7 separate regions of the Homo sapiens genome follow, and regions 2, 3, 4, 5, 6 and 7 are each linked to region 1. The links come from fine-mapping of genetic effects on gene expression. A gene starts in region 1. Each other region holds a variant in brackets. All regions are shown on one strand. Distances are between the middles of the regions.

Region 1 (4,076 bases):
CTTATTGTGCACCACTTCATATATCCCAATCACTTCTACCAGAAAAAAGATCATCTAAGTTCCGAAATCAGTGTCCACCATCATGCTAAACACACACATAACAAACATATTGTGGTGTTAACCAGAAGACAGAGACAGTGTGAACACAGATGTGTAAAGCATGACCTCTGGTGGCTTTCAGAGGATTCTCTCCCACTCCATATCTCATTTCTCTTCAGAGAACAGTCTTCCAAATAGGGAAATGGGTAGCTTGAAGGAACCTGGGCACTGCCATAACTTATACTCACAATTGATTTGAGCTGCCAGAGCCCCTTGTTCCTCTAGACTAGAACTCTACTTTCCTCTGCTCAAAAACGCCTCTGAAACGTTAGCCGACTTGAATATGGAGATAGGGAGGCAGGCAGAAAACAGACTTCCCTGGTACCCGACTGAGTGTCTTCACCAGAGTCCTTTATGTTACCATCTCTGCTCATCACACAGACAGAAAGAAGACTACCGGCGACCCTACTGGGAATCTGCGCAAGAAACCACAGTACCTTGGAAGCCCGCAGTTCTCCTAAGTAGGAATCATCGTTATCTAATGTAGGCTGCTGGAAAGGGTCCCGGGTGGGAGGCATGGCTAAATGCCTAACTCTTTTAAGAGGGATGGGAGGCCCGCTCAGCCGCAGCACAGCCTCACTGGCATAAGATCCCGGGTCCCAATTGTTTGGAGCGCTGGTTTCGGTTGCCAGGCAACTGCCCAGCCATCTATGACAGAGGAATTCCCTCAGAGGAGGGCGCCACCTGGCGGCTGACCACGGGAGGCCCCTGGGGAGGAAGCTCCGGGGACTGCAGAGGGAACGTTCCGCTGAGCGGGCCCGAGACTTGGAATTGCACTCCTGAGCCTCGGCGGAAAAGTGCTGGCTGCTCACCATCAGGACTTCTGCAAAAGACTTCAGTTGAGGAAAGAAGTCCTGAAAGATGACCCAGAAATTTCCTTCTCCCTCGCACCTAACAAAAGGCTTTCAAAGCCATGAGAGAATGAGGATGTCAAGAGACCAAAGAGGGCCGGGCGCGGTGGTTCACGCCTGTAATCTCAGCACTTTGGGAAGCGGAGGCGGGCGGATCGCTTAAGCCCAAGAGTTCGAGACCAGTCTGGGCAACATGGCGAAACCCCGTCTCTACAAAAAGTAGGAAAAAAATTAGCTGGGCTTGGTGGCACGCGCCCGTAGTCCCAGCTACTCGGGAGGCTAATCCAGGAGAATCTCTTGAACCCGGAAGGCGGAGGTTGCAGTTAGCCGAGATCGCGCCACTGCACTCCAGTGTGGGCGAGAGAGTGAGACCCTGTCTCAGAGAGAGAGAGAGAGAGAGAGAAAGAGAGAGAGAGAGAGAGAGAGAGAGAGAGAGAGAGAGAGAGAGAGAGAGAGGCCCACGTGCGGCGCTTGGGAAATTGCGGCTAAGGCAAACTCCTCGCTTAAACTCGGATCAACTACAGTGTCAGGGCTTCTCTTCTAGCCGGTTGTAAAAGCACGGATGGATTTGGCGGGATGTAAGATCTCCAGGAGTGGCCTTCGTAGGAGGGAACACGTACTGGGGCCTCTTCCAGGCGACGACGTCTGGAGGGTGATCTCTCCATCTTCTTTCTCTCGGTTCACACGCCACGTGTGCAACATCGGAGATGCTCATAAAATAACCCCTGGCCCGAAAGGGCAGTAGAAAACGGAAATTTGTTGGCTGGCTTGGAGGATGCTTCCACTGTGTTCTTCACACGAGCCCCGGGCCTGCCTGTTGGGCCGGTTGCGCACCCCGGGCGCGCGCTCTCCCGCGCCCACGCCGCGCGCACCAGCGGCGGCGGCTGCCATGGCGACCCGCAGGTGAGCTGCAGAGGCGCGCGTGGTCCCTGCCCCACCCGCGCGGAGCCAGAGAGGAGGCGGTTGTCAAGGCGACGTGGGTAGGAGGAGAGGACAGAGGGAGGAGGAAGGATGGGCGGTGTTGGCGTAGCCGCAGGGAGGTGACTGAAGCGAGCCTGGCCTCTTGCATCCTCCGCCTGTGTACCTCCCTCCCCTTTTTTTCCGCCTTCTGCCAGCAGAAGCAGCAGCCGCAGCACCTGAGCCGCTACTGCCGCTCACTCAGGACAACGCTATGGCTGAGCCTGGGCACAGCCACCATCTCTCCGCCAGAGTCAGGGGAAGAACTGAGAGGCGCATACCCCGGCTGTGGCGGCTGCTGCTCTGGGCTGGGACCGCCTTCCAGGTGACCCAGGGAACGGGACCGGAGCTTCATGCCTGCAAAGAGGTACTGCCGCCCCCCTACCCGATCCCGCTTTGGTCACAAAAGTCTTGGATCCAGGCGGAGACCTTGGGGACCCAGGCGCAGAGAGTTTCAGACGCCACGGAGTTTAGATTTCTTTGGGGATGAGGCGTGGGGGGAGGGAAGAGGAGCCAGTCTGGCGTCATGAGGAGGCCAGCACATTGGAGGACTCACGGATAGATCATCCTCACAGATTGGGATGCTGAGCTCAGCGAGAAAGGTCCCAGCCCCAAGAAGGGGAGCTACCTGGGTACCTGAACTCAGAATGAGGGAGGCAGACGAGTTATTTTCCAGTTAGGATGAACTCACCTTAAAAGTGGTTGACAAGAAAAGATTATGCACAGAGAAGCAAAATAGGAAGAGGAAAGAAGAGTAGTGGGAGAGGAAAGGAGTTAGGAAGGCCAGAAAAAAGTATCAGAGCGAAGTGGTTTTATCATGGCTACACAAAACGGAGTGTGAAGGTGGGAGATGTGCGAGAGGGATGATAGGATTCCAGCTCTCTAGTTCCTTGTTTATTAAACATCGGTTAGTGCAGACTGTAAAATGTGTCTCCTCCTTATAGCTTGGCCTCCCCGCAGCGTACTATGTTTAGTGTACCTGACAGTACACGACTCACCTTTTTGCAGATTTTGAGTTCTTCAATATCTTGTGTTCTGCCAACCTCTAGTCTCCTTCTCTGACTTAACATATGTCAAAGTCTTTTTCAAGGTATTTCCAATATGTTGGAAGCAGAATTCAGACAATAGGTAGTCAATCTCTTATAACCAAAAATAGCTTTTGAAAAGTCATCTTGGAGGAACATAAAAGGGCACTAGCAGCAACAAAACTAAGTCATTTCTATGTTATTGAAATAACAATATTTGGTTGTGCTCTGAGCAACTTTTTTAGAAACCATATGGCAGAGGCAACAATAAGATATTTACAAGAACTACGTTGGGGAAGGCAAAATAAAAGTTCTGTTATTTCTGTGAAATGTGAAGGACTTCATAAAAAGTCAAGCATCTAGCTCTGTAAATTTAATCCCAAATATCAAGCTTGACTAAGGTTTTGAGAGGTTAGAATATATATATAGATGTATTTTCTTTACTTTAAAAAATATATGTTTTAAAATAGAAATGAGGTTTCGATATACTGCCCCGGCCAGTCTCTAACTCCTGGGCTCAAGCGACTTCCCACCTCGGCCTCCCAAAGTGCTGGGATTATAAGAATGAGCCACTGCGCCCAGCCCAGAATATTTTTTATAAATTGTTAGTGTGAACTGATTGGCAACAACTCCATCCCATATGGAGATAAATTCTTATAAAGATGTTCTGTGTCTACAGCACAGCAGGTCATAAAGAAGTCAGGTGTGGGGGGGAGGATTTTTGTGTGAATAAAGATACTTGATTTTGAAGATTCATGAATATGACATAAGTGACCCCAGTGAGTGGGACTTTTGATAACCTTTATTAGCTCCAATGACAACCTGCCCTGGGCCATCTACATTTCCACCTAGCCGCATTATGACCTGTTTTAGAGATCGCAGGGAACAGTATGATCTTATCAGTGACTGGCTCACTGGCCTTGATGGCCTGTGGTCTAACCAACCAAAATAATGAGACCAAGAAAGCCCACTTGCCTAAGAATCAAACAAGGGAGTTTCCTGAGTGGAAGGTAAGAATCATACAGTTTAACTACCAATTCTTGTTGAGATCTTTGTCAACAATGGAAAATATGAGACATTTCAGAAATTAAGCACTTCTATTATCTTGGTTTGGAGGAAGGGAAGAATATTGATACTTGAGAAC
Region 2 (4,076 bases), 48 kb after region 1:
GCCATCATCACGCCACCGCACTCCAGCCTGGGTGACAGAGCAAGAGACTGTCTAAAAAAAAAAAAAAGAAAAGAAACTACATCTTTACCATATTGCAACAAGTCTGAAATGCCACTGCTTCTAAGACACCATTTTTTTAATGTGTCATCAAGAAAGAAAAAGCTCTCTATCCCTTAAAACATAACACAATTCTTCCTTACTGTGTCAATTTTAAGACACGTCTTGATTTCATAGATGTTAGATGTGGAAAAAGCGTGCATCTTGGAATAGATGAAATGCAGTGTGTTTACCTATCCCCAAAAATAAAGCTTATTCCTTTTGATCCTGACGCATTATTAGATTAGCAAACTTCAAAACTTGTATTTTTTGTCTTAGCTCCTTGACGTTATACATGTTATGCAATCAGGCTATCACGTGGGTTAAAGGGGGACATTAATTCTATTTTTCTTATGCATACAGTAATACAAAATACCTCTGGGCTTGAATATAGTTTTAGGTAAGTGTAGATTGTAAAATACTTGTCAGAGCCAAAATCATCACTAATTCCATGGTCTGTTGTTTATTACCAGATTTAAAGGAGGAAGAAACGCTTAAGGGCATTTGGCACATCAATTGTGTTTTCTTTGTTCTGAGTGGAACTGTTTGTTGTTGTTGTTTTACTTAATGCTTGATTTGGTTGTTTTGTTGTTATTCCATTTATTTTTAGCTCAGGTAAAACAATTAAACTATGAGTTTCCCATTGCACAGACAAATTAGGGATGAACAGGCTCAAGTGAGAGCACATCACCTGCCTCGGCCAAATATATTTTCATAAAATGCAATTGGGAATTCATAGTCTTTCTGAGTGGAAAGGAGCATAAGAAACACAGGGAAATAGGGCCAGGCGTGGTGGCTCATGCCTGTAATCCCAGCATTTTGGGAGGCCAAGGCAGGTGGATCACAAAGTCAGGAGTTTGAGACCAGCATGGCTAACATGGTGAAACCCCGTCTCTACTAAAAATACAAAAATTAGCCTGGCGTGGTGGCACTCGCCTGTAGTCCCAGCTACTCGGGAGGCTGAGGCAGGAGAATCGCTTGAACCCAGGAGGCGGAGGTTACGGTGAGCCAAGATCATCCCACTGCACTCCAGCCTGGGCGACAGAGCGAGACTCCGTCTCAAAAAAAAAAAAAAAAAAAAAAAAGAAACACAGGGAAATAGAAATACATACCACTTCTGTGAGGAGCCTTTGTAAATTTTTTGTGGACTAAGGCTTCCATTTAGAACATCCTTCCATTTAGAATGTCCTCGTTCATAAATTCTACACTTTGGAATAAGAAAAATTCCACCTATTTCTAGCCTGTTCCTTAGTTACCTTTCCCACGTTCCTCTGCTCCATAAGGACACTACTTAAACATAACAACAAAGAGAGTCACACACAAAAATGATTTCTAGGGACTAGACCATGGCTGGGTGGAAGGGAATGATCCAAATCATTGTAGTTCTTGTACTCGGTTCATAATCATCAGCTCCCTGCCCGGGGTCCCAGGGCCCATTTCTGAGAGGATGAGCATCAGTAGCCATGGTGCTGGGAAGTGGGTGGGAAGCTGTTAATGTTTGATCACTGCTAATGCACATTTCGCCCACTGTTCTCTCCCCTGCAGTCTGAGTACCACTATGAGTACACGGCGTGTGACAGCACGGGTTCCAGGTGGAGGGTCGCCGTGCCGCATACCCCGGGCCTGTGCACCAGCCTGCCTGACCCCATCAAGGGCACCGAGTGCTGTAAGCAGCTATCCTGCTCAGGGCCTCCCTGTCACTCAGCTTTGGTCTCTCCCCCAAGTCTCCTGCCATCCAATCTGGGCCCTTCCTGGCAGAGCAGCTGCATTAAGGAATCAGATCTTTTCCCCAATTAGTCCCCACATCCCAGACCCTTATGAGATTTGGTGCAGAAGTATTTCATGAATGCAAACTGGATATCTGAATTTGCTTTCATTTTTTAAAGGAATTTAAATCCCATCAGTGGATACAGCATAAGCAATGCCAGCTGTGTGCACTCAGATATTCTTTTCTGTTTGCATACATTTTCATTTTTGCCTTGTATGTCTCTCCAATCTACACTCACTC[A/T]CCAGCCACAATCAGTCATTAGGCAAGATTGAGATTTGCTTTCATTCTTAAAAAGGAAGTCAGAGAGGCTAAGTTTCTGCAGAGACGTCCTTTAAAATGCTCCAGGCATCACTTCAGGAGACAAGAATCTTCTTGACTGTGGGTCTGATTGTGCAATAGGAAAGGCAGTGGCTTGCCGCAGCCCCAGCACCCGCCTCTGTGACTCTGCAGTCACAACTTTTCTACAATTGGCAGCTGTTTCCCCTGCATTATTCTTTTAGGAATGCAAAGGGAATAACAAGAAAAACCAGGCACTAGATTTAAGGAATTATCTGAAGAGTTGGAAAGGAGTTTGAAGATATTTAAATTCTAAAATCAGCTTAGTACAGTGCCTGGTTGAGTAAGTGAGCAAATAAATACTTGTTAAATTAATGACTGGATATTGCTGAGACCTGAGCAGAACTGAGGTGTGACTAGTGGAAACAAATGAGCCATCTTCATTGAACTCTGCTGACTTCAGTGAGTCCCACTATGTGTTAGCACCATGATGTGCACATGCAGTGTGAACTGCAAAGACAAATAAGGCACACTCTCTGCTTTCAGAAGCTTAGGGTGGTGGAAAGTGCAGACATTCATTCATTCACTCATTGTTTCAGAAACATTCATGAAGCTCCCAGTCTGTGCCAGTCACTGAGCCAGCCATCCCCAGAGGAGCGCAGAGCCTAGTGGGTGGCAGACATATATGATATGAGAAAGAATGAGAGTTACGAATATTTAGGGATCAGGCATAGCTGGGAGGGCCACTTGAGCAAAAGTTTAGACGTGGATGAAGAGTGACACATTTGAGGAAGAGCTTGTGGTCCAGGGTAGAGGCAACACAGAGAAGGTGATGGATGGAGTTGAGGTGAAAAAAGATTTGTAGTGGGAGGTCAAGCTGGGAAGTTAGGCTGCAGGGAAATCGTGGAAAACTTTGAATGCCAGGCCAAGAGCATAATTCTAGAACCAAAAGGGAGTGCCTGTTTATTTTTAAAATAAGGAGAATAATAGTACATACGTGTTTTACTTTTTATTTTTTTAAAGACAAGGTCTCACTCTGTTTCCTAGGCTGAAGTACAGAGGTGCAATCATAGCTCTGTAGCCTCGACCTCCTGGGCTCAAGTAATTTTCCCACCTCAGCCTTTTGAGTAGCTAGGATTACAGGCACACGCGACCACTCCCAGCTAATTTAAACATTTTTTTTTTTGGTAGTGACAGGGTCTCACTGTGTTGCCCAGGTTGGCCTCAAACTCCTGGGCTCAAGTGATCCTCCTGCCTTGGTCTCTCAAAGTGTTGGGTTTACAGGTATGAGCCACTGTGCCTGATCACATCTGTTTTAGAAAGGTACCTCTGACCACAGAATGAGCAAAAATAAGAATAGGGAACTAGTTAGGAGGATATTGCAATGATTGAGTTAACAGGTCATGAGAATTCCACCTAGCATGGTGGCAGTACAACCAGAAAGGCAGAGGCCAGAGGCTCAAGGGAGAAATTCAAGGCTGAAGGGCCATGTGTCATTCAGAGGGGTCAGCACAAGAGACCTTGGCATCTTCTTCACCAGAGAGCTCTCAGAATGGTCAGGGCACCTCTCCAAAGGAAACGAGTGCCAGGAACAAGCCCAAAGTCCCACAGCAAGGCAGAGCATCCGTGGCCCTAGATCTATTTTTTTTATAACAGCTTTATTGGTATATAATTTATATGCCATGAAATTCATTCCTTTAAGGATAAAATTCAGTGGTTTTTAGAATATTCACAGCAACCATCATCACTCTCATTTCACATTTTAATCATCCTAAAAAGAAACCTCATATTATTAGCAATCTCTCCCCAGGCCCCTCCCCACAGCCCCTGGCAACCACAAATCTACTTTCTGTCTCTATGGCTTCACCTCTTTTGGCCGTTCCATACAAATAGAATGACACATAGCAAGGAATATCACTGCTGAAAAAAAAATTTT
Region 3 (4,070 bases), 170 kb after region 1:
TAATCTTCTTTCAACCCAGAGAGTTTAAGTCTTCTCCAGCTCAATCCTAATCCACCCCATTTCCCATGGTCTCTACTCCTGGGAGACCAGCCCTGGTGGCATCTCTTCCTCCTGTCCCTGGGCCAGAATCTGCTGGAGTCAGGGTCTGCTGGGTAGAGGCGAGTCCAGGTACTGACTGTAGTGGTTTGCTACTGAAGTCTTGCTTGCTGTCCTGATCTCTTTACCTAAAGAAATAGAAGGAATAACTGCTTTAAAATGCCCTTCTTCCTCAAGCCCATTTGTCACCCAGCAGAATTCAAGCTCCTCAGGGTGGGAAGAAATGGGATCCCCCTTCCCCTGCCCCAGGCTCCCCTCCTCTCTCCATCTTTCCATACAAAATTCAGGGCTGATGTGCATAACAGCTTGGAATCCCAGATGATGGCGGGGTAGGGAGACAGGATGGGCAAGGGAGGACCAGACTGACCTGGTAGGTCCTGGGACTGCCACTTTCCTGGGGGGCTGCAGATTGCTGCGAGTGGCACCCATGACAGGAAGATTTAGTCGCTGGGAAACAGGAACTTCATGGGGGTTAACAAAAGAAATGAGTTAGCAGCAAGTTTAACTGACCTCGAAAAGAAATACTGGATGAAGGGAGCGAGTGTGGGATTAGTACTCTCCCCCTGACCATGAGGTATTTGAAAACTAAGACTCAGACTCTGTCCAGCCCCATATCCTCTCTGTAACTCAGTCTCCCCATCTTCCAATTGAATTGCAATAAGGATGGCAAAAGTGGTCACTGTTGACAGCTCTGGGAGGGTGAGGACACGCTGGGCAAGGGCGGGCATTCTTCCTCCTGACCTCTTACCCTTGTGTCCACTTTCCCGCACTCTGTGTCCTGCAGTGCTTGGTCTTGGAAGCCCTTTTCGAGTTGACAGAGAATCCGGAGGTAGGGCACCTCTGCCAGGTGGCACACTCCGGCTGGTGAGTGGCATTCGGCTGGCAGGCCTGGGGATGGCCGAGGGAATGGGCAGTTGACTGGAAGATTTAGCAGCTGCTCCCTGCGGCCGGGGCAGGCGTTGAGAGTTGCTGGTAGAAGGCTGTGGGGCCAGGACGGATCTGATGGGGGTGGGTGGGCCTGGTGGAGAGGGGTGGAGAAATTTCAGGGTCAATCCCACAAACTCCCCACTCCCACTCACCCGCAACTTGGCTGCTCTGGTCTCCTCACTGGCTGCTGCTCTCCCACTGGGCCCGGCTCTCCCCCGGACTGGGGGAGTCGATCGGGTAAGAGGAGAAGATGCTGGGCTTTTGGATGCAGGGAACAGATTGCAAGTGGGTGACTCCTGAAACACAAAGAGAGAGAGAAAAAAGACTAGAGTGGAAAAAATATCTGTTCTGTGGCTTAAGGAATTAAGAAATAGAGGTGGAGAGTTGTCTACATCCCAGTAAGGAAGGGTAGAAGTTAGCTGCTAACATCACCACATCACCATCACCATCACTATTGCCAATACCATTTATTGAGTTTATCATAGACATATACTCAGACACTGTGGTAAGAGTTTTGGTTCTCTTTTTTCATGGTTCTCATTTAATTCCAACAATTCTAGATGTAGAAATGCTATCCCTGTTTTACCAATAAGGAAACCACTCCCTGCATCATGGCACACACCATGTCTGGGGCACACCTCCAACTCAACTCTCTCAACTCACCCTCTTCATGTTGGAGGGCCTCTTTCCAGATGTAGCCCGGAGAGCCCTGACTGACCCCTTCCTATCATTACTCCGGAGTCGAGGCGTCAGGCTGCTTGGGGAGGGGGTGCTCCGCGTCAAAGAGTTCACAGTGGGCAGCAGGTCTCGGACAGGACTATCCTTCAGCACAAAGGTCTCCCGCCGAGGACTGGGCTTCACTCGGCGAGGCCCCAGGCCCTCGCCTGCGCTCTCCCGATCCTGCAGGGCACACTGCTCCAGCTGAGCGGCCAGCCGGTTGGCCTCATCGAGGATCTCCTCCAGCTTCTCTGGACTGAGGGGGCCTAGGCTGAGCCTCACACCCTGGGGGGCAGGTGCCACTGCATTTGGGTCACTTCGGTGGGAGAGGCCCCGTCGAAGTGGTTTCTCTGGAGTCACCAACACTGTTATGTCTTCCTCCTCA[C/T]GGCTGAGACAGGAAACAAACCAGGCATCATGCCCATGCAAAAGGGAACAGGAGATTATGCAAGGGAGACTGCATAAAAGCCCCACAACAGAGCCAGGGACATGACCCTAGGCCCCGATGCCCATGCTGGCTGTGAGATGTGGCCTCTGGGCGATGAGATACCTGGTTCTATGGGGCCTAATAGGCCTTTAGCATTTACGGACATCAGAAATGATGCCAGGATGGAGATGCAGCAAATCCACTTATCCTTCTTCTTAACACCCTGAAATCTAACTCCAGCTTCTCCCTTCTCTCCCCGCTACCAATAGTGTCATAGAGGCCCGAGTCAGCCAGCCGCCCAGCAGCCCCAAGTGCGCCAAACCTTGCTAAGTTACCAACCCAAGCCAATAATTCAGCAGTAAGGGATTCGAGACAAAGAGGTACTGTTAGAGGAAAATAAGTGGGATAAAGAGGCTGGTACCTGTCAGATGGTGACAGCCCCCCAAAGTCCAAGGTCTCATCCACAATAAACCTTACATCTGAAGGGGAAAGAAGAATGAAAGCCAGTCATGGGTCCCTGATGCAGCTCTCCATCGCTGGGTCTCACTCCTCCCTTTCATTCTTCCCTCCCTCCTTTCCTTACCTTCCTCCAAATCCTCCATGTCCAGCCAGCAGGAGCGAGAGTCCAGTTAGATCTGAGCTGGAGAGAAACCATACCTTTCCTCAGGTATCCATTCTGCCCAAGGCTCGCAGCTAGATTCAGGGTGCAAGCCAGGGTCGGGGGTCATGCTGGAGGCAAAGCAAGCGCCCAGGAGTGGCACCTCCCGCACAGCTACTCCTGCTACCTCCGGGAACGATACGGAGGGCTCCCCCAACTGCCCAGATTGCCCTGGAGCCGCCCTGCATCCTGGCCTCTCCTCACTGGGGGCGGCCTGCACGCCCCATCTTCCTCCCCGCCACTATCCTCAGGGTTCTGCACTCCCCAAGCCACCTTTCCACTCCCCTGGCATCACACGCGAAGCACACCTCCAGCCCACCCTGTGTCCACTTCCCGCGCCGCCTTATCTTCCACGCAACAGGCTTTCTCCCGCAACCTAGTCCCGGGAATCAGCTCCGAGGGGGCGGGGCTCCTTTCGAATCTCTCAGGCCCCACCTACTCAAGCCACACGCGCACCGTGATTGGTGAATCCTCAGGGGGAGGGGCTGAGGAGCTGCCGGCCGGAAGTCAGCCGGTGGGGGCTGGGGGAGAACCGTTCCCAGAAGACTGCATCCCGGTGGCGGAGCCGAGGGTTGAGGCTGCGAGTGCGCGTGCTCGCGTGCGCGGAGACTCTCTTTCCCGTAGGCAGATGGGAGCAGAGCGCGGCTGGCCAGGAGGGAAGAAACGGACCCACGAGTATGGAACTCGCGCCCCGCCCCGCTCCCTCTGCTGGGCCGCCGAGCACCCAGTCTCCAGAACGGTTGTGCTGCCTAACGTGGCCGCTAACCGACGCTCTACGGGAGGAAATTCGTTTTCTTGGGCGCACTCAATATGCAGGCGCCGCATTGGCCGAGGTTCCTCAGTTGTGGGTTTTTTCCAAGTTAAGGGAGCACCTAAACACTTATATTGTAGGTATATTGAGGTTCTCTTAGAAGTACATCCTCCATCGCCTCTTCAAGAACCTGAGGCAGCTGAGGTGCAAAGAAAGCAACGGGCTTTTCACGCAGGCAGGCTTAGGTTCAAATGCAACCCAAGTTTAACTGACCTCAGAACCCAAGTTTCGGTTTAGAGGCGGCTGCCTTGAGTATATTTGCCCTCTTTTCACCTCTCTTCGCTTATCTGTGAAAGGAGGATGTTGGTCCTCGCAGTTACGGTGTTACGAGGATAATTATGAAGGCGTTTTCTACCGTGTGCCCTTAGGGGATTTAGAGGGGGTGTTTGTAAGTAGCCCCCTCTGAACTAAAAGCAGTATTTGTAAAATGCTTAAAC
Region 4 (4,076 bases), 71 kb after region 1:
ACAAAAAATTAGCCAGGCATGGTGGCGGGCGCCTGTAGTCCCAGCTACTTGGAAGGCTGAGGCAGGAGAATGGCGTGAACCCGGGAGGCGGAGCTTGCAGTGAGCCGAGATCGTGCCACTGCACTCCAGCCTGGGCAACAGAGCAAGACTCCATCTCAAAAAAAAAAAAAAAAAAAATCTCATTCCACTACACCATACTGCTTGCCAGGTAATATAAAGAGAGAGAAGTTCTTACCATTATTCAGTGCTTATCTGCAGGTGACACAGCAGTCATATTCGAAGTAGTGGTGGCAGTAGTAACAGTATTGTAATGTGCACCTCATAAAGCAGTTGTTTTTATTCTGGAGGAAGTAAATTCCCTAGAAAACTTTCAAAAAGTTTTTATTTGTATGAATTACGCATATTTTTCTAGGTAGAGAGAAACATCTCTTTTTTTCAAATTTTCAAAAGAGTTTTTAAAATCAAAAAAAGTTAAACCCACTGCTTTAAAGAGAGAGTCAAGCACAATGGCTCATGCCTGTAATCCCAGCACTTTGGGTGGGTGGCTGAGGTGGGAGGATTGCCTGAAGCCAGGAGCTCAAGACCAGCTTGGGCAACATAGCGAGACTCTGTCTCTACCAAAAAAAAAAAAAAAAAAAACAAAAAAAAGAGAGAGAGAGAGAAAAGAAAACAAACCCTATGATGAAATAATGAAAAAAATAAAATTAAAAAATGAATTCATAGAAGTAGTTCTCACTATCCAGAGGTTCACAGGGTTAAAGCAGAGCTAACATTGAAAGGAGGAGAACATGCAGAGAGCAGAAGAAAACTGATAGTTCACGTTTTTCTTCTTTCTTTCTTTTCCTTCCTTCCTTCCTTCCTTCCTTCCTTCCTTCCTTCCTTCCTTCCTTCCTTCCTTCCATCCTTCCCTCCTTCCTTCCTTCCTTCCTAACAGAGTCTCTCTCCATTGCCCAGGCTAGAATGCAATGGCATGATCATGGCTCTCTGCAGCCTCAACCTCCTGGACTCAAGTGATTCTCCTGCCTCAACATCAAGTAGCTGGGACTATAGGCCTGCACCACCACGCCCGGCTAATTTTTGTATTTTTTGTAGAGACAGGGTTTGCTATGTTGCCCAGGCTGGTCTTGAACTCCTGGGCTCAAGAGATCCTAAAGTGCTGGGATTACAGGCATGAACCACCATGCCCAGCAGTTAACATTTTTCATTAGGTATAAATCAAGAGTTAAAGATAGTGTTGGGCTGGTGCGGGAGGCGGGAGGATCGCTTGAGCCCAGGAGTTCCAGGCTGCAGTGAGTTAAGATTGTACCACTGCAGTCCAGCCTCAGCAACAGAACAAGACTCTGTCTCTAAAAAATAACAATAATAAAATAATAATAAAGAGGCCGGGCACGGTGGCTCACCCCTGTAATTCCAGCGCTTTGGGAGGCCGAGGAGGGCAGATCACCTGAAGTCAGGAGTTCGAGACCAGCCTGACCAACATGGAGAAACTCCGTCTCTACTAAAAATACAAAATTAGCCAGGCATGGTGACTCATGCCTGTAATTCCAGCTACTCAAGAAGCTGAGGCAGGAGAATCACTTGAACCTGGGAGGCGGAGGTTGCAGTGAGCCAAGATCGTGCCACTGCACTCCAGCCTGGGCAACAAGAGTGAAACTCCATCTCAATAATAATAATAATAAAGATAGTGTTGGGATGCTTGGGTTGAGGCAAGTGGGAAGAACCTTATGTGTTAGGTGGAGTCCAAGGAAATTACAAACCTGGTTTGTGTAGAATGATTGCATGAAGAAAAGGAAATTTCCAAGGTGGAAGGCCTTCATTCTAGGCATATATTAGAACATTCATAGAAAGGCTTGGAATGAGTATGAAAGCAAAATCATGTTTTACTTCAACACTTCAGGAGTAGAAAAACCACACCCAGAGTCAAGACACTAAGGCACCTGGAAGATGGTGAACTCTCTGAACCTCCCCAGGTTTCAGGGAACTTAGGTTGGCAGTGGTTAACCTGCAAGAAGCTGTTTCCGTCTACCCTCCTTGCTGGTCCTTTGGCCAGGCCACTTCTCCCTCCCTTGCCCCATGGGGCGGGGGACGGGAAGCGGCAAACAGTGGTTTCTCATCAGCACCTGGAACAGGTGCAAAGGGAAGCTTGAGCAGGGTTGGGGAACTGGAAATGACACTATTGAGACAAGGGGAAGGGTGA[G/A]TGTGCAGGATTTTCTACTTCCGGCAATATTTGTGTGGCAATGCACCCAGGGACTTGGGAGTCACAGGGCCATGAAGAGGCCAGGAGCTCAGCTTTCTTATGTAACTCCAAATATTTCTTCTTGCTTTGGCAATTTAGAGAAAGGATCTTCTTCCTGTAACGTGCGCCCAGCTTGCACAGACAAAGATTATTTCTACACACACACGGCCTGCGATGCCAACGGAGAGGTGGGTAGTACAGTCTTGGAGCCCCTTAGCCCCAGATGGACTGTCTCCCACTCCCTGAGGTTTGCCACCATTTGGAACTTCAGCAGTCAATGACATTGGCACTAGTTAAAACCCCACAGACCTTTGAGGTGACCCTAGGGCTAGGTGGGGTGGGGGGCAAAACGAGACCTCTTCATTCATTTTCCGGTCAGAAACTGTTTTTGCAGCGTTTGTTTCACTGTTTATGCACATATGTTCTGTTTCAAAAACCCACTTCATTCTCTCTTGCTTGGTTTCTTCTATTTGCCGAGCCACTCCGGCAGAGCCTGCCTGTCCGTACACAATGTCCTCCCGGGGCTCTTCAGGCTCACCCCCTCGGCACTGTTTTGTGGGCTGGCACGGGGAATGGATTCCTGCCTATGGTCTGACTTGTTCCGTTTCTGCTGCTTCTCTTTCCTCCAGGCTTTCTGCTTCAGAAAAGAACTTTCCCTCCTAGTCTACACTGTCACTGAGTCAACAAGCATTTTTTGAGGCTGACTGATATGTCAGGCCTGGCACTATAGGCTGGGGAGTCAGAGACGACTGAAACAAGCTCCTGCCCCCAGGGAGCTCACAGTCCTGTATGAGAGGCTGGAGAGAGGAGAAAAACGGGCCCAGTCAAGGCAACCAGAGGGATGTGCAGGGAACTGGGGGAGCCCAGAAGAGAAGCGACCAGGACTTGGGGTGGGGGCAGCAGAGAAAGCCTCTCAGAGGAGGCCATTTGTTCAACAGTCAACAAATATTTATCGAGGAGCGACTCTGTGCCAGGCACGGTGCTAGGTGCTAGGCATGCATCACTTAACAAAACTGAGGGAACATCTAGCCCTTATGGAGCTTAACTCTTGTTGGGGAGGGAGTGGAGAGAGAGATAATAGACAACAAATGGGTATATAATATAGCAAATGGTAGTAAGTGGTAGGAAGGAAAAAAAAAAACCAGGATTAGGAGAGAGAGAATGAAGGAGGGTGGTGCCACTATTTTAGAAGGGTAGGGATGTCCTCTCAGGAGGTGACATTTGAGCAGAGACCTGAAGGAGATGAGGGAGGAGCCGTGGAGCTTTCCAGGCAGCAGACACAGCAGGAGAGGAGGCGGCAGCTGGGCCAGGTGGGTGGAGAAACAGTGTAAGTGAGCAGGGAAGGGCTTGAGGTGCACGGAGAAGGATCTGGCTGAGCTGTCTGTATCCCTAAGCTAGAGATTCTCAAGAGGATAGAACTAGGAGTTGGGCATTCTGCACTCAGCACTAAGCATGATGCTTGGCTCTTAGGGAGCATAAACATTTGCTGGCTGGGCGGCTGACTGAATTCTCCCTTTCCTAACTAAGCATGGGTTAAAGTCTGGTCCTTAACAATGAATATTTTGCACAGTCATCTCTTACCAACACCACCTCCCCCACGTATTTGGGGCATCATCCCCTTCTCCAGCAGCCAAGAGAGAATGGCTGTGTCTTGTCAGTTGCACCTTAGACTCAGTTCTGTGGTGTCTGGTATTCTGTATGACCTTGTGAACATTTATTTTCATTTTCTTGGTCTCAGCCAACTCACTAATAAAAGGCAGACAATTAATCCTGCTGCTCTTCTCCCTCCTGTTCATAACATGTGACTGAATGTGGCTGTCTTTCCTCCCTTCTGCCCCAT
Region 5 (4,076 bases), 280 kb after region 1:
CAGTCACCATTGAAACAAGAACAAAAAAGCTGCCTAGAACTGACTGAAATTGATCAGCTTGTTCTTCAAGCCCCATTAATCCTCAAATCCACCTGCATACAAATCACTGAGACCACATAGTGGGAAGAACAAGTTTTCACCAAGTTTTTAAAAATAGAAGTAAAAGATGCAATAAAAACACTGATGACAAAAGGAGAGAAAGGGAACTGAAACTTGTAGAAATCTACAAATGCAGTATCTAGTTCATAATATTGTCAGAGCCATTGCCACAGTTTTGTTGTTTCTAGAAAAGCTGTATTTTAAATTACATGTCAAATGTGATGGCTTTGTCTGCCTTAATATTAGCTCCTAATTATATAAAATATCTGAGCCTCATTTCTGCAGCCTCAAAACATAGTTCACTTTCTGTAAAAAAAATTGAGGGGTAGGATTAGGTAGGAAGGAGGGAGAAGAACAAACGTTACTCCCCCGTCCTGACCATTACAACTTGGTGCTAAGCACTGCCCAGCATGTGATGGTCACACAAGGGTAACAGGCCAACTGGGACAAAGTTGGGGAACGCAGACTCTGCAGTCACCCACTGAGAACCCAATGCCTGTTGACGAGAGTTGACTGGAAACTGGCAGAGTGCAGAAGAAACTGCTAATAGTATCTGTGACCCTGACATGAAAGATCTGATCAAAACAGCAGGATAGAAAGCCTATTATTGTTGTTAATAATCACAAAAAGAAAATAGCCATTAGAAATTGAACAGAACATAAGCCTTCTTCCAATTATTTCCACAAGCAGACATGAGACTCAGATTTCTAATTAAAAATCACTGTGCACAGAGCCAAACATTTGAGTCAGCAGAGAACTTACCTAATTGTTAACACTGCATTCCCTTGGAGCCATCTGTCATACCTGGCTAGCTTTCTACTCTCATCCCAACCAAACTTCAGATGAAGACTAACCTTTCCCCAGATAAATTACACTTCATCAAATCTGCTGATACTTCTTACTGAAATATCCAATGCATAAGTCATTTTAACATCCCTCTAGGGGCTAAAGGTCTGACTATACATTGCATGAGAGAAGACTCTTCATGAAGGTTTCGCTCACTCTGCTCAACCAGGACCAAGAAGGAGATCCTACAGAGTTCCTACTCCTTGATCCAAAGCTGAATGGAAGAAACAGAACTCAAGAGACTATTAAATAAGCTAGACGGCTGGGGGTGCTAGGGAAGGTAGGATGAAGAGAGGCCAAGTATTGGAAGAAATGAGGCAGTTAGGAAGTTCCGGGGCATTAAAGGACTGACCTTCAGACTTCCGGGTGTTACAAAGGTCTGGCGATTCACAACAACAGGCCGAGGTCTTCAGCGGCAGCTCCCTGAAGCCTCTGACAGGCACACTCAGTCCTGTCAGCTTGGACTCAACCCTGCCAGAGCCAGCAAACAAACACACGCATTCTTCCCAGAGCTGACACCCCATACAACACGGCCTCTCTACAGGGCCTGTTTATTTAAGGAACCAGATGCTTTAAAGTTGGAGTAGAAGTTGGGAAGTTATGTTTACAGAAGTAGTTAGTGACAGGAGCAGAGGGAGGACAGAAAATAAGCAAGAGTTCCTGGCTTTATTCATCATAAGTTTAAAAAGTTTTAAGGAAATTGTCAAATGGTCTGTACACAGGAATGAGAAGTAAGGAAATTATGTCAGCCACCACCACAACTCTGGCCAAGGCATTTCATCTGTTCCTTTAAGACAGTTTCATGCCTACCCTCAAAGGGGTGCTTACAGCAGAAATGTTTTGAAGCAATCCAACTTAGTAACCAACAATAAAGTCTTCTAGGCCTGCTCAATTTCACGCATGTACAAAGGTTATACATGTCATGAATACTCCAAGCAGCTGAAGGAAAGAATCAGTTAAAAATGTGGCATGAAAACAGTTTTGAGTTCCAGGCAAAAGGAAGATTATTGAGTCTAAGAAGAGAGCATTTATAAATGATAGCTAATTGCTGAGTGCTAATTATGTGCCAGACATTCTTCTAATGAGTTATTACATATGTATAGATTATACAACACAATGTGATATGTTGTAAT[A/G]CATACTATAACTCATTACAAATACAATATTACATATGCATATATTATGTAATACAAATATATATTTATACAATAATATACATATACGTATATATTATGTATATATAATTTAACACACACTCATTTAATTCTCACAACCACCCTACAAATTAAGTGCTCTTATCTTCACTTTACAGATTAGGAACTGAGACACAGAAAACTTAAGTAACTCACCCAGGATCACACAGTGACATGGCCAGGGTTCAAATGCAGGCAGTCCAGATAAGGCAGTGCTATACCACCTTACCATGGTAAGTCAAACCCTTAGAACAAAATTAGGGAGCATAATTTTTGGAAAGTTATAACTATTTATCTTTCTCCTTCGTTTTCTTGTCATCCCTTTTGTTTGTTTTTTTAGTAATAGCCAGTATTTTTTATTTCCACTTTCCCATGAGTCTATTATAGCTAACTTGTAATACTGTAACTAGAAAGGAAAATGTTTTCCTCTCCTGCCTCAACTCCTAAAATAAAGCACTTAATCATTAGGACTTCTATGTGAAAAAATATATGCTGTGTGTAATAAACCCAATGCACTTTAAATATATTTTAAATTAATAGATTGAAAAGAAATGATATGAGAAAAAAAACCTTAGAGAGAAAAAGGGAGGCTTGGGCAAAGAGAAAAACCTGCTGGATTTCATGGACAGAGAAGCCTGAGTGGTCATCAGGACACCGGTCTCCTTAAACCGTAATATAAACGCACTATTATGCTTTAGCTTTACCGTGCTTTCTTGAGAAGACAGGTTAAATGCTAATATATCCTCATAAGCCACAGACACAGGTCTAGTAGTTTGCTATAACCTTCTGAGGCTTTTCATTCTCCAGTCTGAATGATCTTTTCTTTGTATCTTGGCACCCCAGCATCTAGCACAGATCTAGGCATTTGGAGGGCATTCACATACATTGATGATGTGAATTAATGTGGCTTGAAATGAAACAGGACCAAGTTAAAAGAAATAAGAGAACCATGAACTTTTGCTTTTTCTTGGGACTCGAATCCTGTCATGTTATGTAGGAAAAATGATTCTACATGTACCTTCCTTCCCCAGTTGTACAAAGTACAATATCTCTGATAAAAAGTTGTTCTGTCATGCTGATGCTTTTATTTCACACTGTTTTATAAACGGTCCAAAAATACTAGATCTCTTCAATACAGTTCAGGATTTTTTATGACTTCTAAAACCAAATAAATAAACAGAAGAACAGGCTACTACATAACAATTCTTGGTTAAGAAGTACTACTTAACCATTTTTAAGGTAAATGATATTAAACAAAGGCTCCACTTTTTTTTTTTTTAACCAGATACAGAAAGGATGAGATCTCTGAAGAAGAGACCACGGATGACTAACAAACGCAAAAACTTTTTTTTTTTTTTTTTTTTTTTTTTTTTTGAGATAGAGTCTCACTCTGTCACCCAGGCTGGAGTACAACGGTGCGATCTCGGCTCGCTGCAACCTCTGCCTCCTGGGTTCAAGTGATCGTCATGCCTCAGCCTCCAGAATAACTGGAATTACAGGCGCATGCCACCGCGTCTGGCTAACTTTTGTATTTTTAGTAGAGACAGGGTTTCACCATGTTGGCCAGGCTAGTCTTGAACTTCTGACCTCAAGTGATCCACCTGCCTTGGCCTCCCACATTGATAAGATTACAGGCATGAGCCACCGTGCCCAGCCAAAATAGCTATTTTAAATAAGGTCACTGAAAAAAAGACTGGGAGAGAAAAACTAAAAAAAAATTATTGCAAACAGCTAAATGAAAGAAATAGAAGAAAATTTCTTTACATGTGGACTTCAAAGAATGAGTGGTTTTAGGTCTACTCTTCCACAGATTTGGCCTTAGAACCCCTGAGCCAGTTTTTTCAACCTCTTTCTTTGGAATCAATATATTACAAATGACACATCAATTCAAACTAACCAGGAAGACTCTGACTCAAGGAATAAATCCAGGCAGGGCATAGT
Region 6 (4,076 bases), 82 kb after region 1:
GGGAGAAAACTGCTACTCTTGGCTGCAGGCCCTCAAGGCCCTTCCTGACCAGCTGGCCCGACCCGTCCCTCTCCCCCTCAGATCCACTCTCTGTGCTACAACGATTGCACCTTCTCACGCAACACTCCGACCAGGACTTTCAACTACAACTTCTCCGCTTTGGCAAACACTGTCACTCTTGCTGGAGGGCCAAGCTTCACTTCCAAAGGGCTGAAATACTTCCATCACTTTACCCTCAGTCTCTGTGGAAACCAGGTAAGGTATACCAGTTGACAGGGTGAAAATTGAATGGGGGAGGCCCATGGATCAGAAGCCAGAGACAGACACAGGAGAAAACCAGAAATCCTTCAGGTAGCAGGGGGTTGAGGAGCTTCAAAGGTTTTTACATATTATTCTCCCTGAGGACTTTTTCCCCTAAAATTAAATAATCAGGATTATAAACACTTAAGAAAATAAAGATATTTAAAATAATGTGTTCTTGCCGGGTGCCTGGTGCGGTGGCTCACGCCTGTAATCCCAGCACTTTGGGAGGCCGAGACGGGCGGATCACCTGAGGTGGGGAGTTCGAGACCAGCCTGACCAATATGGAGAAACCCCGTCTCTACTAAAAATACAAAAAAATTAGCTGGGCGTGGTGGTGCATGCCTGTAATCCCAGCTACTCGAGAGGCTGAGGCAGGAGAATCGCTTGAACCTGAGAGGTGGAGGTTGCAGTGAGCTGAGATTGCGCCATTGCACTCCAGCCTGGGCAAAAAGGTGAAACTTCATCTCAGAAAAATAATAAAAAATCAATAAAATAAAATAAAATAAGGTGTTCTTTTACCTGACCTTTATTTCCTCAAAATGAGTCTATTTAAAAATATGCAGGAGGAAGGCTAGGCGCGGTGGCTCACGCCTGTAAACCCAGCACTTTGGGAGGCCTAGGTGGGTGGATCATGAGGTCAGGAGATCGAGACCATTCTGGCTAACACGGTGAAACCCTGTCTCTACTAAAAATACAAAAAAATTAGCCGGGCGTGGTGGCGGGCACCTGTAGTCCCAGCTACTCAGGAGGCTGAGGCAGGACAATGGCATAAACCTGGCAGGCGGAGCTTGCAGTGAGCGGAGATCACGCCACTACACTCCAGCCTGGGCGACAGAGTGAGACTCCGTCTCAAAAAAAAAAAAAAACAAAAAAGCAAAAAACAAAACAAACAAAAAAAACCCCAGAAATATGCAGAAGGAAAGGTTTTTTTCCCTTGCTTGAAAAAGCAGTCTTCAGCAATCACTGCATTTGTCGCTTGTTTTCTAGAGGCTGGATAAAATCAACTGTTTCTAGTTCATCCACACGTCTCTTTGCTGACAGTATGAAAGAAAGTAACATGAAATGCTTTATAAGGAAAGATTGTCACCATCAGCCATTTCATGCTGCTGCAAATATTTCAGATCCAAAATTCAAAGGCAGAAATGCAAAGGTTAATCCCACCACTGCACTTGATTAAATTGCAACAAGCCACAATTAGCAGTTGGAAAGTTCATTTCAAATGTTACAAAAGAGGCTGGGCATGGTGGCTCACGCCTGTAATCCCAGCAATTTGGAGGCCAAGGCAGGCAGATCACCTGAGGTCTGGAGTTCGAGACCAGCCTGG[T/C]CAACATGGTGAAACCCTGTTTCTACTAAAAATACAAAAATTAGCCCGGCATGGTGGCACACATCTGTAATCCCAGCTACTCGGGAGGCTGAGGCAGGAGAATTACTTGAACCCAGGGGGCGGAGATTGCAGTGAGCCAAGATCATGCCACTGCACTCCAGCCTGGACAACACAGCAAGACTCCATCTAAAAAAAAAAGTGACAATATAAAGAGCATCTTGAGCATCTAGTCTTTGACTCTGTTGGTGGTAAGGCCTTTACATCATAGAGCTCTGACCCATCTTCTGCAGCATGCAAAGAAGTCGATGGGTGTTTATAAAGAGAACATGTCAAGAAATAAACTAATCTATGAAAGATTAGAGATAGGTGTCTCTATCTTGTTTTCAGAAGTCTTCGAAGAAGTTAAAATGAAGCCTCAGAAGTAACAGGTCATGATCACTTAGGAAATAAGACTGATTAAAGCAGGCTTCATGTAGCAAAAGTGTCATTCAGTGAATTATGGAGAGCAATGAAGGTGGGGAATTTGGGGAAATGGTGTATTTTTTTATCTACTCCTTTCCTGTTTAGAAATGCTTATGATGTACTGCCACACGATAGATCCTTAGTTCAAAGACAAAAGAACTCTATTTTATTGTAATGTAAAGGTTTTCTTCAGTTTTCAAGCTCATCTACTTCCTACAATCTAGAAAAAAAAAAAAAGGCTGAGACACCAGATTTAGCACTTTTTTTTTTTTTGAGGTGGAGTCTCACTCTTTTGCCAGGCTAGAGTGCAGTGGCACGATCTCTGCTCACTGCAACCTCCGCCTCCCAGGTTGAAGCGATTCTCCTGCCTCAGCCTCCCGAGTAGCTGGGACTACAGGCATGCGCCAGCACGTCCAGCTAATTTTTGTGTTTTTAGTAAAGACGGGGTTTCACCACGTTGGCCAGGATGGTCTCAATCTCTTGACCTCATGATCCACCTGCCTCGGCCTTCCGAAGTGCTGGGATTACAGGTGTGAGTCACTGCACCCAGCCAGCACCATTTATAATAAAATTTATAACATTGAAAATGTTGACTGGGCACAGTGGCTCACCCCTGTAATCCCAACACTCTGGGAGACTGAGGCAGGAAGATTGCTTGAGCCCAGGAGTTCAAGACCAGCCTGAACAACACAGAGAGGCCCTATCTTTACGAAAAAAAAAAAAAAAAATTAACCTGCGGTTCCAGCTACTTAGGAGGCTGAGGCAGGAGGATCACTTGAGCCCAGGAGTTCAAGGCTTTAGTGAGCTATGATTGCACCATTGCACTCCAGCCCGGGCAATAGATCAAGACTCTGTCTCAAAAAGACAAAACAAAACAAAAAAATCAAATCTGTCTCGTCATTAGACCTGGGATGAATCATTCCCCTACAACATACCATTGAAACGCTGAAAATTTAGATGTAAAAAAGCCTTCCCTATTCCCTTCTGGGAATTCCTCTGTGACCACTCACTTCTTCCTACTTCTTCCTCCCCACTCCCCAACCAGGGTAGGAAAATGTCTGTGTGCACCGACAATGTCACTGACCTCCGGATTCCTGAGGGTGAGTCAGGGTTCTCCAAATCTATCACAGCCTACGTCTGCCAGGCAGTCATCATCCCCCCAGAGGTGACAGGCTACAAGGCCGGGGTTTCCTCACAGCCTGTCAGCCTTGCTGATCGACTTATTGGTGAGTAACTCCGCTGCCTCAGCCTTGTTTGAGAGTGTGTGTGTGTGTGTGTGTGTGTGTATGTGTAAGAGAGTGTGAGGTTACCAGTCTGGGAGGTAAAAGGCCCCACATGAGGGGCCCAACCTCTTGACCTGTGTTTTCTATTCCACTCTGTGTGCAAAGTGCTCCCAGGGACTCTGACAAACCCTTGTTTCACCCTTTCATAAGCCACTCAGGGATGTGATGAGATGAAGTGAGGTTGGATGTTGACAGGTATTGGAAGAATTGAAGTGGTTGCCAGCTAATGCTACTAGTGAGAACTAATTAGGAGCTCTAATTTGGCAGGGGTGACAACAGATATGACTCTGGATGGAATCACCTCCCCAGCTGAACTTTTCCACCTGGAGTCCTTGGGAATACCGGACGTGATCTTCTTTTATAGGTGAAGATGAGAGGCTAGGCTAATGCAAGTGAAACCTAGGACTCCTCCATAATTTCTGCTGCATCCCTCCCTCTCTAGCCACCTACTGCTTATCAAGCCAGAACATGTCTGAGGTCTAGCAGATCTGCCCAGTCATGATAGCTAAGGGCTGGGAGTTCCTGATCCCAGCTTCCTGGATATTACTGGAGCAGATCTGCCCTAGAGGCAAGGAGAAATATTGGATGATCTGCAGTGGACTTCCCTTCCAGCCTAAGCAGGCTCCAGTGTATGCTAGCCATGACTTTCCTAAACCAGGGCATTTCCCCCTTGACTACATATTGTTGATCCCCACCCTTTCCAC
Region 7 (4,000 bases), 110 kb after region 1:
TGAGCCGAGATTGCACCATTACACTCCAGCCTAGGCAACAAGAGCAAGATGCTGTCTCAAAAAATAAAAATAAAAAGCTGTAAGATTTTATAACTTCATGAGGCAGATCCTTCAGCTCTGCCGGCATTTGGGCCTTAACCTGAAATCAGTACTAAGAAGTCAAGATCAGGAGAAAGGAGTATCTTAATTATGGGCATTTCTTTGGTATAGTCTTGGATTCTTTATTCCTAGGTAGATTTCGGGCAGACAACTTGAACAAGCTGAAGAACCTATGCAGCAAGACAATCGGAGAGAAAATGAAGGTAAGAGAACTGAATAACAAACAGCCATGAGAACTTGAGCGGAGATATTTGATCTTGCTCTTAGCTAATGTTCACAGAAGTTCTAACTCAGTGTTTAAGTCTACAAGATGTTCAATTTCTTACCAAAGGGGAAAATATTATTTTAAAAAGATAGGGAGGCAGGGAACTTGGAGGCATTTTCATATACTTTACCACAAGTCCATCTTCTGTGTTCAGGTAAGATTCTTTGTTGTCTAGCTGTTTGTTGTCTATTCTGTTCTTATATTAGAAATATAAATTCCACCAGTCATCTTTTTTATGGCAGATTTCAGATTTGTCGTCTCAGCGTAGTTATGCTCCATAATGAAAACTACAGATTCAGAGTTCAAATCTTGCTACGTTATGTGTCTTTTAGGCAAGTTAATGCCTCAGCCTCAGTTTTCTCATTTATAAAATGACAATACTAACACTCACCTACAGAATGGAATTGTTAGAACTTTTTTTTTTTAATTTAAACGCCAAGCAATGGTTATGGATAGAACTAAATTTCTTTTAAATGTAGAAAATTTGGCACAGTGTCTAGAACATGTAGTTGTTCAGCAATTGTGAGTTATAATGAATGGCAAGTAATGTTACTGGCCTTCATCCAAAAAAAAAATCCTTCCTATGCCTGAAAAATACTATGTTTCAGCTCAGCTTTTGCTTTGGTATCCAGAATAGTTCATGTTTTTAACCTTCCTTCAAAAATACCTGTTTAGCCCCTTAATCATATTACATTACATATTATAGCTGGGTACAGTAGCTCACGCCTATAATCCCAGCACTTTGGGAGCCAAAGTGGGCAAATTGCTTGAGCTCAGGAGTTCAAGACTAGTCTGCACAACATGGTGAAACCCCATCTCTACAAAAATAAAATGAAACAAAAAAATTAGCCAGACGTGGCGGCCTGTGCCTGTAGTTCCAGCTACTCAGGAGGCTGAGGTGGGAGGATCACTTGAGGCCAGGAGTCAAAAGTTGCAGTGAGCCAAGATTGCGCTACTGAGCTCCATCCAGCCTGGGTTTCCAGTGAAACCCTGTCTCCAAAATAAATAAATTAATTAATTAAATGCACTTTACAATCTAGATAACTTTTACATTGTAAACCTCAAAACTAAACAACAACAACAAAAAATTATAGAACTTTGGAACTGCACCAGTAAAGAGCATAAAAAGATGACCTCGGGATTCTAGCACCTTACACTTAACTTCATGGCAGTCGGCATCTTTCTCTTTGACAATATTTTGTTACACTTTCAGCGTGTAACACTTTTAGCTGTGGAAAGTGATATTGATAATCATCCAGTTTCTTTCTGTGGGACTTAGTCATTCGCATACTAGAGGCCCCATAATTATGTTAATTCCCATGCATACTCCTCCCTGGGTGTTCTTTGGGACCTATGTACAGTCAGTGCCAGCTGGGTATTTTTTGAAGCAAGAAGATGGGATTGTGAGTGTTGTCATTCACAATAACATTCTTAGATCTGATTTTGTTGCTAGCCATGCAGGGAGTGTTCACTCCCACTGCCATTGAAATGGTAATGATAGTGCTTTAATTTGTAGAGCACTCGAAAGCATTCAGATACTTTCACAGACATCTTATTTTGGTTTTGATCCTTACTGCAGAGCTGGAGTGCAGATAGTACATTTGTCAGCCCTATTTAATGGGTAAGGGAATCGGCTTAGGAAATTAAAGAGCTTGCTTAAAATCATATTCTAACTTAGTTGCAGAGTCAAACCTTGAGCTCAGAACTTGAATTTGCTGCCCTGAGGGATTATCAAATAGCAAGGGAGCCTGGTAACTATCTTGCAAACATATCACCCTGCCTATGATGCCATTGCAAAAATCTTGAGATTTAGTCCATTTTTTCCCTACCTCTGTAGTCTGTTCTTATCAAGACTCATTCTGATAGTTTCAGATTTTTCCAACTTTTTTTCTTTTTTTCTGAGACAAAGCCTCATTTTATTGCCCAGGCTGGAGCGCAGTGGCACAATCATGGCTCACTGCAGCCTCAACCTCCTGGGCTCAAGCAGCCCTCCTGCCTCAGCCTCCCTAGTAGCATGCCACCACACTCGGCTAATTTTTTTTTTTTTTTTTTT[TG/T]TTGAGATGGAGTCTCCCTGTGTTGCTACTGCACCTGGCCAGATTTTTCCAACTTTTTAAGATGATTTTGCTCTGAGTCACTGAAGGGTGTGAGTGGAGTTATGGTTAGAATTTTGATTGTATGAGAATGTGTAATGAACCTAAAGGATTTCCATGCTTTACATTTAGGAGATTTAGTCCTTTTGTTCTTTCTTTTTTTTTTTTTGACACAGTGTCTTGCTTTGTTGCCCAGGCTAGAGCGCAGTGGCGTGATCATAGCTCACTGCAGCCTCCAACTCCTTGGCTCAAGCAGTCCTCCCACCTCAGCCTCTCAAGTAACTAGGACTATAGACACATGTCACTGTGCCTGGCTAATTTTTTAAAAAGTCACCCAGGCTGGAGTGCAGTGGCACAAGCATAGCTCACCACAGCCTCTAATACCTGGGCTCAAGCAGTCCCCCCGCCTCAGCCTCCCAAGTAGCTGAGACTACAGGTGTACTCCACTATGCCTGGCTAATTTAAAAAAAAAAAAAAATATATATATATATATATATACACACACACACACACACACACACACACACATATATATATATTTATTTATTTATTTATTTATTTATATTTAGATATGGGGTCTCACTCTGCTGCCCAGGCTGGTCTTGAACTCCTGGGCTAAAGTGATCTGCCCACCTCAGCCTACCATGTAGCTGGGATTACAGTTGCAAGCCACTGTACCTGGCTATACTTTGTTTTATTTATACTCACAAAGCGGATGCTAAATATTCTTATGCAAGTTTTGTTGAAGTCTCATGTATCTTATTATAATGACCTTTGACTAACTTTCTTTAACTCTTTTTTTTTTTTTTTTTTGAGACAGAGTCTTACTCTGTCACCCAGGCTGGAGTGCAGTGGTGTGATCTCAGCTCACTGCAACCTCTGCCCCCAAGTTCAAGCAAGTCTCCTGCTTCAGCCTCCCGAGTAGTTGGGATTACAGGTGTCTGCTACCGCGCCTGCCTAATTTTTGTATTTTTAGTAGAGACGGGGTTTCACCATCTTGGTCAGGCTGATCTTGAACTCCTGACCTCGTGATCCACCCACCTCAGCCTCCCAAAGTGCTGGGATTACAGGCATGAGCCACCGTGCCCTGCCAACTCTTTTTAATTTAAGAAGAATTTAACTCTTTAAGTGATCTTTTTAAATTCACCTGGTTTTGTGCAAGGATTACAAATGATGATTTAGCAGAATTATCATACGGAAGGATGAGAAGAGAAACTAGAGAGAACGAAATCCAACCCTGGTTACACCCCTGCCATTTTGTCAAATTACATTGATTGTTCTAAACTGAGTTCCAGATCCTGTGACTTTTTGTTTGTTTGTTTTCCTTGGCTGTCTGATATTTCATCATTCCATCCATCTTTCACCCTTAGCCTCAATGCTGGGATTGTTGTTAGCAGGTAGATAAGAATCTACACTCGGGGCCGGGTGCAGTGGCTCACGCCTATAATCCCAGCACTTTGGGAGGCCAAGGTGGGGGATCACTTAAGGCCAGGAGTTTGAGATCACCCTATCCAACAGAGTGAAACCCTATCTCTATTAAAAATAC

The links. PIP is the estimated chance that this variant, and not a neighbour inherited with it, causes the effect.
Region 2: its variant is fine-mapped to the expression of ELAPOR1 in whole blood (TOPMed, PIP above 0.99).
Region 3: its variant is fine-mapped to the expression of ELAPOR1 in whole blood (INTERVAL, PIP above 0.99).
Region 4: its variant is fine-mapped to the expression of ELAPOR1 in whole blood (TOPMed, PIP above 0.99).
Region 5: its variant is fine-mapped to the expression of ELAPOR1 in whole blood (INTERVAL, PIP above 0.99).
Region 6: its variant is fine-mapped to the expression of ELAPOR1 in whole blood (INTERVAL, PIP 0.97).
Region 7: its variant is fine-mapped to the expression of ELAPOR1 in whole blood (INTERVAL, PIP above 0.99).

The regions. Positions count from the first base shown.
Region 1 is chr1:109,112,063-109,116,138 of GRCh38, forward strand. It overlaps ELAPOR1 (endosome-lysosome associated apoptosis and autophagy regulator 1), which reads left to right and starts at 2,053. Exons shown (of 22, transcript NM_020775.5): 1 at 2,053-2,274. The coding sequence starts at 2,122. It overlaps CFAP276 (cilia and flagella associated protein 276), which reads right to left and starts at 685. Exons shown (of 5, transcript NM_001245025.3): 1 at 537-685. The coding sequence starts at 617. RefSeq lists a silencer at 1,805-1,874.
Region 2 is chr1:109,160,253-109,164,328 of GRCh38, forward strand. It overlaps ELAPOR1 (endosome-lysosome associated apoptosis and autophagy regulator 1), which reads left to right. Exons shown (of 22, transcript NM_020775.5): 2 at 1,642-1,762. Among named protein-coding and RNA genes, the nearest start is that of ELAPOR1, 48 kb to the left of the region's middle. The variant A/T (reference allele first, on the strand shown) is at 2,105.
Region 3 is chr1:109,279,933-109,284,002 of GRCh38, forward strand. PSRC1 (proline and serine rich coiled-coil 1) reads right to left here and starts at 3,213. Exons shown (of 8, transcript NM_001032291.3): 1 at 3,131-3,213; 2 at 2,748-2,804; 3 at 2,586-2,643; 4 at 1,687-2,128; 5 at 1,205-1,319; 6 at 845-1,114; 7 at 464-557; 8 at 1-224. The coding sequence starts at 2,766. The coding sequence ends at 221. RefSeq lists enhancers at 3,582-4,070, 3,675-3,724. The variant C/T (reference allele first, on the strand shown) is at 2,126.
Region 4 is chr1:109,182,710-109,186,785 of GRCh38, forward strand. It overlaps ELAPOR1 (endosome-lysosome associated apoptosis and autophagy regulator 1), which reads left to right. Exons shown (of 22, transcript NM_020775.5): 8 at 2,336-2,424. Among named protein-coding and RNA genes, the nearest start is that of SARS1, 29 kb to the right of the region's middle. The variant G/A (reference allele first, on the strand shown) is at 2,198.
Region 5 is chr1:109,391,730-109,395,805 of GRCh38, forward strand. The region is part of intron 1 of SORT1 (sortilin 1); the gene reads right to left. Among named protein-coding and RNA genes, the nearest start is that of SORT1, 4.2 kb to the right of the region's middle. The variant A/G (reference allele first, on the strand shown) is at 2,079.
Region 6 is chr1:109,194,340-109,198,415 of GRCh38, forward strand. ELAPOR1 (endosome-lysosome associated apoptosis and autophagy regulator 1) reads left to right here. Exons shown (of 22, transcript NM_020775.5): 15 at 82-255; 16 at 3,135-3,315; 17 at 3,640-3,736. Among named protein-coding and RNA genes, the nearest start is that of SARS1, 18 kb to the right of the region's middle. RefSeq lists an enhancer at 2,998-4,076. The variant T/C (reference allele first, on the strand shown) is at 1,628.
Region 7 is chr1:109,223,747-109,227,746 of GRCh38, forward strand. It overlaps SARS1 (seryl-tRNA synthetase 1), which reads left to right. Exons shown (of 11, transcript NM_006513.4): 2 at 232-302. Among named protein-coding and RNA genes, the nearest start is that of SARS1, 12 kb to the left of the region's middle. RefSeq lists enhancers at 1,628-2,312, 2,313-2,997. The variant TG/T (reference allele first, on the strand shown) is at 2,418.